Regions from separate parts of the Homo sapiens genome. Here region 2 is linked to region 1. The links come from fine-mapping of genetic effects on gene expression. A gene starts in region 1. The other region holds a variant in brackets. All regions are shown on one strand. Distances are between the middles of the regions. Region 1 holds the start of EGFLAM (EGF like, fibronectin type III and laminin G domains). Region 2 overlaps EGFLAM (EGF like, fibronectin type III and laminin G domains).

What was found.
Region 2: its variant is fine-mapped to the expression of EGFLAM in lung (TOPMed, PIP above 0.99).

Annotation. Positions count from the first base shown.
Region 1 is chr5:38,255,559-38,260,935 of GRCh38, forward strand. It overlaps EGFLAM (EGF like, fibronectin type III and laminin G domains), which reads left to right and starts at 3,001. Exons shown (of 22, transcript NM_152403.4): 1 at 3,001-3,293. The coding sequence starts at 3,197. LOC124900966 (a long non-coding RNA gene) reads right to left here and starts at 3,108. Exons shown (of 2, transcript XR_007058739.1): 1 at 3,036-3,108; 2 at 1,539-2,073. RefSeq lists an enhancer at 1,631-2,132.
Region 2 is chr5:38,367,751-38,373,127 of GRCh38, forward strand. It overlaps EGFLAM (EGF like, fibronectin type III and laminin G domains), which reads left to right. Exons shown (of 22, transcript NM_152403.4): 6 at 2,546-2,712. Among named protein-coding and RNA genes, the nearest start is that of EGFLAM-AS2, 33 kb to the right of the region's middle. The variant C/T (reference allele first, on the strand shown) is at 2,249.

The DNA of each region.
Region 1 (5,377 bases):
TCCTCTTCCATGATAATGAGCAAAGTAGGCAGGTCACTCTTCTGCTGGTGACCTTATTAATTGAGTTTAGACCTCCAGTGAATTTGAACAGATTTTTTTTTTTTTAATGAAACATTCAAAGCCTCTTGGCCCCTCTTTAGTTCCCCTCCTCTCAGAAAGCAGGAAGAGAGTGAAAGGCAAGTGTTCTATTTGTCTTTAGTCAGATTTACAAATGCCATAGTTGGTTTTCAAACTGGAAGGAGAGGGAATCTTCCAGTTCCCTTGGAGGATGCGATTTGAACTGCAAAGGAAGGGAATAAGTTTAATGTAACATGTGCTCTAGATTTGAAGCAGATTTTGTGAAATAAGGTCTTATCTCAATGGCCTGATGATCCAGAGTGTTTGCAGGCCCTCAGAGGTAAAAATACAACAGTATAATCTAATGTTGTTTTTCCCCAAGGAAAAAACAAGAGGGGTCTCTGAAGAAACCAAGCCTATTTCCCAAATCGCCTATGGTCATCTGCAAAAAAATGGAAGGGAGGCCCAGGGCCAGGGATGCCGAGGTGGTGTGGGCACATGAGGAGGACATTGGCAAGAAGGCTGCCCAGGCTTGCGAAATTTGCAGTGGACAATTTGCACAGGGTCTGTTAAAAGGCACATGCAGAGTAAAGGTAGCTTAGATTAGATGATGCTGTTTTATCAGCTATTAAAGAGAAAGCAAAACCTGGAATTTACTGATTGTTTCGTCCAGCCCATTCATTTTTACCAAGGCACACTATACGCAGAGCCTAGGATTAAACACCCACATCTCCCGATCCTCTCAGTCCACTGCTGTGTTTACTTTCCACATTGTTCTCTCAAAAGCCTGAAAGCTGGAATCAGACCCCTTGGATTCAAGCGCTGCATGGGAGCTGCATGACCTTGGGCAAGTTTCTTAACCTTCCCATGCTTCAGGTTCCTCACCTGTAAAAGGCGAGAATAGTAATGACAGTATCTTCCTGGTATGGTTGTTATTGGGATTAAAATGCACTTCAAAGAAGGTCTGGTACATAGGAGACCTTAAATAAATGGTAGCCATAATATCAACGATTATTATTACTTCCAGTTTCAGCATCACAGAGAATCATTTTTAAGTAGGAAAGCCTGCATGGGAGGCATCTGCATTGCAACACTCGCTTGGTTCTGGGTGCCACATTAAGTCCGAGATAAGAAATCACTTTCGCATAAAGAAAGGCCTCTAACAACTTCTCAGCTGGCGCTGGAGGAGCTCTCTCACACAGGTGGAGTTCAAAGGGAGGTGGCACGACCCGACACCAATGCTGAAAGCAGACTCCTGCGTGGAGTGGAGGCATGGCCTAGATGACCTTTAAAATGCTAAAAAGTCTATGATTTTGAGACCTTTGAGACTAGCAGCCTTGGGGGCAGTCACTTTGCTTAGCTTAGTGGCCGGCTTTATGGTCACCTTGGACGTGAAGAGCATAGTTCTGTCTGAACTTTGCTCCAGTTCTATGTAAGAGGACAAGCTCTGGTGTCACAGCTAAAACTTCCAAATACTCAAGTTGGAGGGGACTTTGAATTTATTTGTGAACAGACAATTGCACACTTGAAAATGCCAACACATAAGGGAACACACTCAGCTTTGCTAACTAACAAGATTGAGCTCATTACAAACTCTCCAGCCAGGGGATATTTCATTCTTAAAAGAGGAGTAGAAATCCTGTGTGTGTGTGTTTGGGGGGCTGGGGAGGGGAGAAGAATATATCAGTCAACATTGTTTCCTCCCGCGCTCCCAAACATAGGCTAACTGTGAAGAGCCAGGACGCCCACCGAGTCCTGGCAGCGTTGCAAGGTGGGGAGGGGGCGGGCGCGGTCCTGTCGCTAGTGACTGCAGATTTCCTCTGCGGGGCACTTCCTACGGCCTTTGATCTTTCCCCAGGAACTGCCGAGGGCCGCGTTTGCCTCTAAGTTTATTCCCTCTTGGTTTATTTATTGTATCTGCTTTCTCTTCTCGCTGGTTTGGAGGTCAGAACGCCAGTATGCAACGGGACTTGTGTCCCAGGCAGGGTCTCCCCTCTCCAGGCACTACCGCGAAATCTGGCAAAAGGTACATTTTACTGAGTCCTAGGGCAGCAAATTCAGCGGCGGAGAAAGAGTCTTTCTCCATTCAGGAGACAACCCAGGAAGCCCGATCCCGGGATCAGAGGCCAGGACCCCGCCCCGGCCCCCTGCCCCAGGCCCAGCTGGGCGCCGCCCAGGGGCTTTTCTCGGTCCGCCTGGGGGCTCGAGCTCGCGTCCCTCCCTAAGACGCCAGGCTTAACTTGGAGTTTCATCTCCTCCCCAGGAGGGTCTCAAGTTGCCTTCCTCTGCCGGGAAGGGCCCCCACTCCCCCGCTCCAGGCCCTAATCTCCACCCGGCGTCCCAGTCTGAGCGGCCTGGCCTCAGCTCTCCATCTGCGAGCCTTAAATCCCATTTATCTTCTTAGCGCCTCAGACCCGGACGGTCCCGCCTCTCTTCCTCTCACCCCCACCCCACTTGCAAATCACAGACCCCCGTCTACCCCTCGCATCCCCCAAGTGCGCTGGACCAACTACAGCAACCTTTGAGGTGTTAGAAAAAGTCGCCTAGAGGGGCGCGGCAGGAGGAGGGCCCAGGTGGGGTGGAGGGGGGGCGCCCCAAGATTTCAGGGTGAGGACCGCGGAGGGTCCTGGACCCGCAGTCGCCTAACTCCTGCCCTGCGTCTCCAGTGCTTGAAGTCGGTCCCTCCCAGGTCCCCAATCTAGGTCACCAGCGGGGAAGGGCTGCGCTGGGGGTCGCTAGAGAGGGTGAGGGGCGGGCTGTCTGCTTCCGAGGTGGGCGAGGAGTGAAGGTTTCAGGGCCTGTCCCTCTCACTTCCACTCGATTGTAATTTCATCCCCGGGCCGGTCGAGCCTCCCTCCCTCCCGCGGCCAGCCCTTCCCTCCCAGTCGGCCTCCTTCGTCGCCCCCGCCCCCGCGAAAAGCCCTGCAGCTTGCAGCCGGCTTCACTCGCGCACGCCGACCTCCCGGCTGCAGTCCTACCTCTTGGAACTACCCGTGTTTCCGGGCCCAGCCCTCGCAGCCCCCCACCTCCTCGCCCCGGCCCGGGGATCCGTTGGGGCCGCGTCCCCCACGCGCCCCCGGAGACGCCCTTTCCGTGTGCGCCCGGGACTTGGTGAAACTTTGCAGGCGCCGGCTGCGAAATGGATTTAATCCGAGGCGTCTTGCTCCGGCTCCTGCTCCTGGCTTCCAGCCTCGGACCCGGCGCGGTGTCGCTCCGAGCGGCCATCCGAAAACCAGGTAATGCGCTCCTCCGCCCAGAGCCACCACGCCCCGAGCGCCCCTGCTGGGCTCCGGGGCGAGGACACAGAGCGGGCAGCGCACCGCCTCCCTCTCCCCGACCAACGTCTGCTTAACTCGCTTCAGCTCTGCCAGGAGCTGAGAAAAGACGCAAACCTCGCCCTCCCCCGAGCCCGGGCGGCGCTAGGGATATTTATTTATTAAAAGAATGATCAATTTTCCAGACATAGTAGATAGAGGTGGTGGTCCCCGTGTTTGACCGCAGAGAGCTGACAGTTGGGACAGCGATCGTGCTGTCTCAATTACAGAGGATGGCAACCATGCAGAGGAGTCAAACCAGCCCCTCCTGCGTCTCCAAACATTTTACTCAATTCATATTGTCCAGAGCCCAGCCATTTCCTGTTAAGTGTCTGAAGGGTTGCCTGGAGCCCCCTCTGCCCATCTCGGGTCCTGCCCACGCGTTGTGCAGGGATGTGGACTCTGCTCTTAGCATCCTCTTCCACTCTGGGGCCATTTGTTCAGAAGGAAGCACCCAGTGGGTTAATTTTACCGTGTTTTGAACTCCTGTCTTTGCTTTGGCATTTAAACAAAGAAATGTACGTTGTAACCTGTTATAAGGGACTGGGAATTGGGGGAGAACTTGAAACCATAATAACGTGTGTTTCCTCTAGCTGCATATAGGTAAAAAGTCTTCGTTTATTTTGGTCTACTTTGATTTGGCCTATGCTGTGAGATTATTCAAAGTAGAACATTCTGAACAATGAAGTTCTAAACATTGTTTCCCAAATAACGATTTTTATTACTTTTTGCTGGGACCATATTTAGAATTCTGAAAAATCTGTTTTGTCTTAACTTACTTTGTAAGGGAGGTTGTCTTATGGGATTAATTATATCTTATGAACAATGGAAAACAATATTACTTTTATTTGAATGCAGTCTGCAAAACCTCACAGAAAGTGCAGTTTGTCTTCACAAACGTTTCTGTAAGAAAGAGGCAAAGCTAGGAAAATTTATCAGAGGGCAGAGAAAATCGTCTTAGCGGGATCCCATGTGAATGCTTAAATATTTTCGCATTGAAACTCTCTATCTGGAAATATGACTTGTTGCATTTCGGCTCTGGAAGCGTCCTCAGTCTTTGCACTGTGTCTCTTATTACCAGCACTTGTTACCTGCCTTGAAATCTAAGGTCATTATCATAATCTACACCATATTTAAATTATGAGCCACTCCATTTATGAGCTCTTCAATTCATTTTGGAGATAATAGCTTCAGTCCAAGGTAATATCACATTAAATTGTTTCTCTTCCTGCACGCACACATACATATACCTTCAAGGATTTCAGTGAAGGGCTTCTTTCTAACTTTCCTCCTTAAGATAACCACATCACGATCAATTGCATTTTGCAGATTTATTCACATGAAATCATCTATTAATTGTCACAATTTTTAAACAAAGCATAGTTATATCTATAGTTTTAAAGCATGAACAGTGTATGCAATGCTTTTTAAAGGATATATTTTAATCCATTTAAGGGGAATTTTTAAAAAGCATTTTATAAAAACCTGTTGTATAAAACTGCTCATGTGGGTCATCATATTTTCCTTCTTATTTTTTGGAGTTCTTCTCCTAAAAAGATTTTCTACCTGGTTCATTCAGGGTCTCATTCTGATATTCATGCCAGGAATATGCCATGCTGGCCTCTTTGGTTTTATTTGAAGCATAGATAGGGTTTTGATAGTGGAAACACCACCTCTTAAATACTTTGGCATATTAATTACATCAAATTTGAGATAGAAGTGTTTAGACTAGGTTCAACCTAGAAGAGTTTTATTTTTATTACTTTATAATTTTATCCAGACACTAGCTTTCAGGTTGGAAAGCTTCTCAGATTAAAATGACAGCTACTTCATAACTTCAGGGGAAATTTCCCTCCTGGGCTCATTTACATCCCTTGGAAAGACTAGTTTTTGATCCGGAAAATTGGTCCAGATTAAAAAACTGAATGTGCCCTGCTTGGCTCTGATGTGAGCAGCAACTAGCTAATTTATAATCTTCCCCAGACACTAGCAAATCCTGCTAGTAT
Region 2 (5,377 bases), 110 kb after region 1:
TTTGCCTGGTCATCTCTTTCTCAGCCTCACCTTTGTACTTTTGTACCTGAAGAGACTCTAAAAACACTCAAATAAAAAACTCATGACAAAATCAGAGGCAAAATGTTAAAGGTTTTGAACAGGCATTCAATCTGCATGAGCTTGTCTCTCTCACTCTATAGAATAAAAATAAATGCTAATGATTTAATCTCTTGTTTGCTGGAAATAAGAGTTTTTCTTTTCTGCATTAAATGGACAACATGTACAAAATCATCTTTTTGTTTTGCTGTAGTTTTTACATAAAGATTGTTGCAGGTCTTTGCAGGTAGTCCTCGGTAAATAACAGCAGACTGTGAGAATAGATATGGGTTATTTCCTCTATAAATATCACAAGGGAAGCTTAGCAAACGATAGCAGAGAGTTTTATCTAAAGATCACATCTTTTCTGACTTTACTTTTAGGTATCCCCTGTGGTTTTCCTCTGCGAAGTGATTTTGTTCTAATTTGAGTTTGTAAATGTGTTTCCTTCCACTCACCGAGGTTTTCTCTTCGATGATAAAGTTAGTTTACATGAGAATTCCATCTTTGGGAAAAGAATATCAGGAAAGAGAAACCAGCCCTGCTTCCTCCATGGGCATACCCTGTGAACTGTGCTTTTCCAAACACGTTAACACACTACCCCCAGCTTGGTGAGCTTGAGGAAGCATCATTTATTGGGCATAAGGACTCCATCTGGCTTTCAATCATTCCTGCTAATGAAAAACTGGGCGAGCTCACATTAAGGAAATCCGCTGTTCACCCCGGCATCTTCTTTTAGCAAAATGACTCTCTATTTCCTTGCCTGGTAAGTTGCTCCTCAAAGACAAACAGAACTTTTTTGTTTCCTGCCTTCCTCTAAATATCTGTGAGCAGAGGTGTTTAACAACAGAACACCTGAGAGGTGGCCAGGGAGCAAGCAAAGGGATGGGGAATCGTCTGCCGCCCACCGTCACTCCCCCTTTTCATCCAGTATTAAGGGTCTTGTAAATCTAACCTCATCCTACCAATCCAAGTGGGCCTCACCATTTATCAGCTATGTGACCTTGGGCAAGTTACTTACCTGTTCAGTGCCTTAGTTCCCTTCTCTGTCAAAGAAAAAAAAAAGGTGGAGTGTTTAATATTAGTACCTACTGCATAGGGCATTTTTGAGAAGTAAATGAGTTAAGGTATTAGAATGGTGCTTGGTAGATGGAAAGCCCTTGACGTTATTAGCCATTAACACAAAGCCTCTCCTCCCCTTAGGCCATTCACACTGTCTGCAGGCCATGCACAATTATTTCCAACTTTTATCTTGTAGTTCTTATTACCTGGAATGTTCTTTTTTTCTCCCCTCCAGCTAGGATGTCCACATAGAGCAGTGCTATCCAGTAGAAATACAACGCCAGCCTATTTGAAAGTTTACGTTTTCTAAGAGTGGCATTTAAAGGGCAAGAAGAAAGAAATGAAATTAATTTCAATAATATATTTTAACCCACTGTATCCAAAATATACTCGTTTGAACATATAACCCATATAAAAACTATTGAGATATTTCACATTCTTTTTTATTTTTCTTTAAAATCCAGTGTACATTTTACACAATAGCACATCTCAATTCAGACACATTTGAAGTGATGACTGACTACCACATAGGGTAGTGGTACCATATTGGATCATGCAGGTATAGAGTAAGCAGGCAGCTATAAGTTACTAGTTCTGTGAAGAAGTCCCTTGAATAATGTCTGGTACCTGCTGAGTGTTTACAATTTGATGCCAGGTACTAGGCTGGAGATATATATCTTATTTAATCTTTATGGCAGTCCTCTTAGGTAGATCCTTTTATTATTCTCATTTTACAGATGGGAAAACTGAGTCTTAAAGGAATTAAGTAGCAGCTAGTAAGTAGGAGAGTCAGGATTTGAACTCCAGAGCTCATCCTCCCGCCTTCTGTGTATTACCTCCCAGATGGGAGCTCTAAGCAAAGGTCTGCCTTCTCTGAAGGGCCCTCCAAAGGACATGTAAAAATTCAGCACATTGGCGTAGCTGTATAATTAAGACTAAGAATGTCCGTGAACAGATTCTTCTTGGGTTTTCCCATGACAATTCATGCAATTAGTCACCCTATAAAACTTATATTTATTTTGTGAACAGATTGTGAATAGACGGAATCTGTGTTCTTCTGACCTCTGGGGATGGGGACTGCCAAAGGGAGGATTGTTTGTGAACATCTGGAAGGCAGAGTCCTTGAAAG[C/T]GAATTCCTATGTGAAGATCTTTTCATCATAGTGAGGGCCTTGCAAGGAAAAACGGATTGTCTTTAAGTAGTGTTTACAACTGACCCTAAAAATAATCTACTTGTTTTTATCGGCAGGGACTTGCAAATGATGACTTGTGATTTCAAATCAGGATTACTTTCAGATAGGAAATGTTAACTTACTTTTACAAGTATTGCTTCCAGAGTTCAAATGCTATTAGTTTACATAGCCAGCTAGCTTCCCTTCCCTCTGGTATTTCTGAACTACTGCTTCTTCTGTTTTTCTAATCAATAAAGGCCAGATTTCGACAAGAAGTGGACCTCAATCCATGAGCGGATCCAGATGGACTCCATGGTTATCAAGGGCCTCGATCCAGATACCAACTACCAGTTTGCCGTGAGGGCAATGAATTCCCATGGCCCCAGCCCCCGCAGCTGGCCCAGTGACATCATCCGGACCCTCTGTGAGTACCAGGGTCCTTCTGAGGGACCAAGGGAGCTGCATATCTGGGCTTGCCTCATGAAGACTCACTTGACCTGGATGCCGTGCAGAAGGACAGCCTGGAAAAGGGCTAACCCCAGGCTTTCCTCCTGTGGTTTTCCCAGCCCTTTGGAAGTTAGAGGCTGTCAACAGGGACACGGGCTGTTTCTATGTCCTGGAGGTCAGCAGAGGATTTATTTTTGCATCATCCTTGGGAAGTTTGAGGTCAGTTTTCTTTCACAGTCACACAACAGACCACATAGCAAAATGATATGCAGCCTTCCCCCTCCTTTTCATATTTTGAGAAAATGAGTTAATCTTAGAACCATAGGAGAAAAAACTAAGGCCCCTGGAGGCTTCAGCGTTCGTGTTCGCCTGAAAATAAAGGATATTCAAACAACATCAACTCCTCTGAATGATGGTCGAGGAGTATCAAAGAAGTTGAGCGCTGACATGGAGCTGGGGCTGTAGCCAATGGTGTATGTTCTCATAGTGCCTAGGAACACTTGGGCCAGTGTTCATCAAATCACCTGGGGGTTTTGTTAAAGTCAGATTCTGTTTTTGGTGTGGGTTTTAACAAAATCCCCCACAATGCCAAGAACCATTCTTGGATTGGCAAAAGCTTAGAACACTTTGTCAAGTCCAGCCCATTTTAGACGTTTTTTGTATTTGGGGAGTGGAGGGTATATTTCTGTAAACTCAGAACCCTGTGTAGCAGGGAGAGTTGAGAATGAAAATGTTGGCACTTTTTTGTTTGAAGATTCTGATCTTTTCAGTATTGCCAATACATTCCTCCGGTAGAGCCCGGCTGCTCCTTTGGGTCCTCTTTACCCAGAAAATGTGCTGTCAGAAAGGAAGCAGCACTGGTAACTGGCTTAACCAGCCAACATGAAGCCCTGTTTTTATTGGTTAGCAGAGCTGAATAATCTCCTCTCCTCACAAAGCACCCACACAGCTGACATCCAAGGCCACTGCTGTGTTCAGGGGTAGAGATTCAGGAGGTTCCCCAAATCTGAGGAATTTTGGCTCCTTTGAAAACAACCTCTACCCTAACCTTGAATGTCGGGTCGCCTTTTGTCAAATTAAATTGTTGGGTTATATAGGGAGGCTATACTCCAAAACACACACATGCGCACACACACATACACACACACACACGCACACACATATGCACATGCTCGTGCACCCTATAAGTACTATTGATCACCCAGGAAAAAAAAATGTTTTCACTCTTCTTCTTTAGAATTTAGAAGCTTAAACTTCCCAGACACATTCCAAAGGCTGACGGCATTCTTCCTAGAAGAAATGTTGATGATTCGATTTAAAGGAAGGCCTTGTTTGATTACTCTTTGGCTGAACTTTATGGAATAGCAGGAGCTAGGGGCCGACAGTACTTTGAAACACTGAGTTCGTCTTTTTGCACTACAAAGTGAGCAGCCACTTGGTGCTGTGTCCCCATCCACCCTCCCCATGGAACTCCTGCTCCCATTTCGTGAGCTGCTCCAGGCTCACCTCTTTCAGTCTGTCCCTTAGCTTTCCCTTCTCCGTAGAGTCAAGAATGTAGAATAAAGATGAGATATAACAAGCACATGCTGATTTAGATGTGCGCATAGAGACTGGAGTCAGGGAAGGATGGGTGGGTTGGGGCACCTCTCATACTGCTCCTTTTTTTTTTTTTCTTGACTCAGAGACTCACTCTGTCACCCAGGTTGGAGTGCAATGGCGCGATCTCGGCTCACTGCAACCTCCGCCTCCCAGGTTCAAGCAATTCTCCTGCCTCGGCCTTCCGAGTAGCTGGTATTGCAGGTGCCCACCACCATGCCTGGCTAATTTTTGTATTTTTAGTAGAGACGGGGTTTCACCACGTTGGCCAGGCTGGTCTCTTTGGCCAGGATGGTCTCGAACTCCTGACCTTGTGATCCACCCTCCTTGGCCTCCCAAAGTGCTGGGATTACAGGCATGAGCCATGACGCCCGGCCTCATACTGCTTCTTTTTTAACGGAAACACTGATCTGGTCTTAGAGTTTCTGATTATAATTTCCCCATTGCTGGATCCTGCTTTTCTGGATTGAGTGGATAAGTTATATGAAAGTGTTTTACAGATCTGTGAGATTTTATTATAATTGGCCTGTTATGTGAAGTAAAATTTTAAAATTTCAAAGTAATTGTGGGTAGGGAAGGTGGACAAAACCATGCTAAGTCAATGAAAATTCTCAGTTATGAAACATTCTTAAATAGACATAATTTTACACTTCTAGGTATACACAGTTACTCAGATCAGAATAACAAAATTTATTAGATGACCTGTTTCATGAATACAAAAGCATGTGCTATAATTAGTATTTCAATCGTGGTTTTTCTCCTTGATCACTTCTGACATTTTGGAAAACCCTTTATTCTAGGATACATTTATATTTTTTATTTTGGTATTGGTTTAGACTATTATTTTGCTTCCAAAACATGATTTTCCCATACATAAAATTACCTAATTATCAAATAGCACTATCTGAATTAAATTAAAACTGTTAAATTTTAATTTAACAAATTAACAAATTACTTCAAATTAATAAATTTCAAATAATACAAAATACTTCAAATTAATACATTTGAAGTATCAGAGCTACCATTGGGAAGATGTACTATGAGCC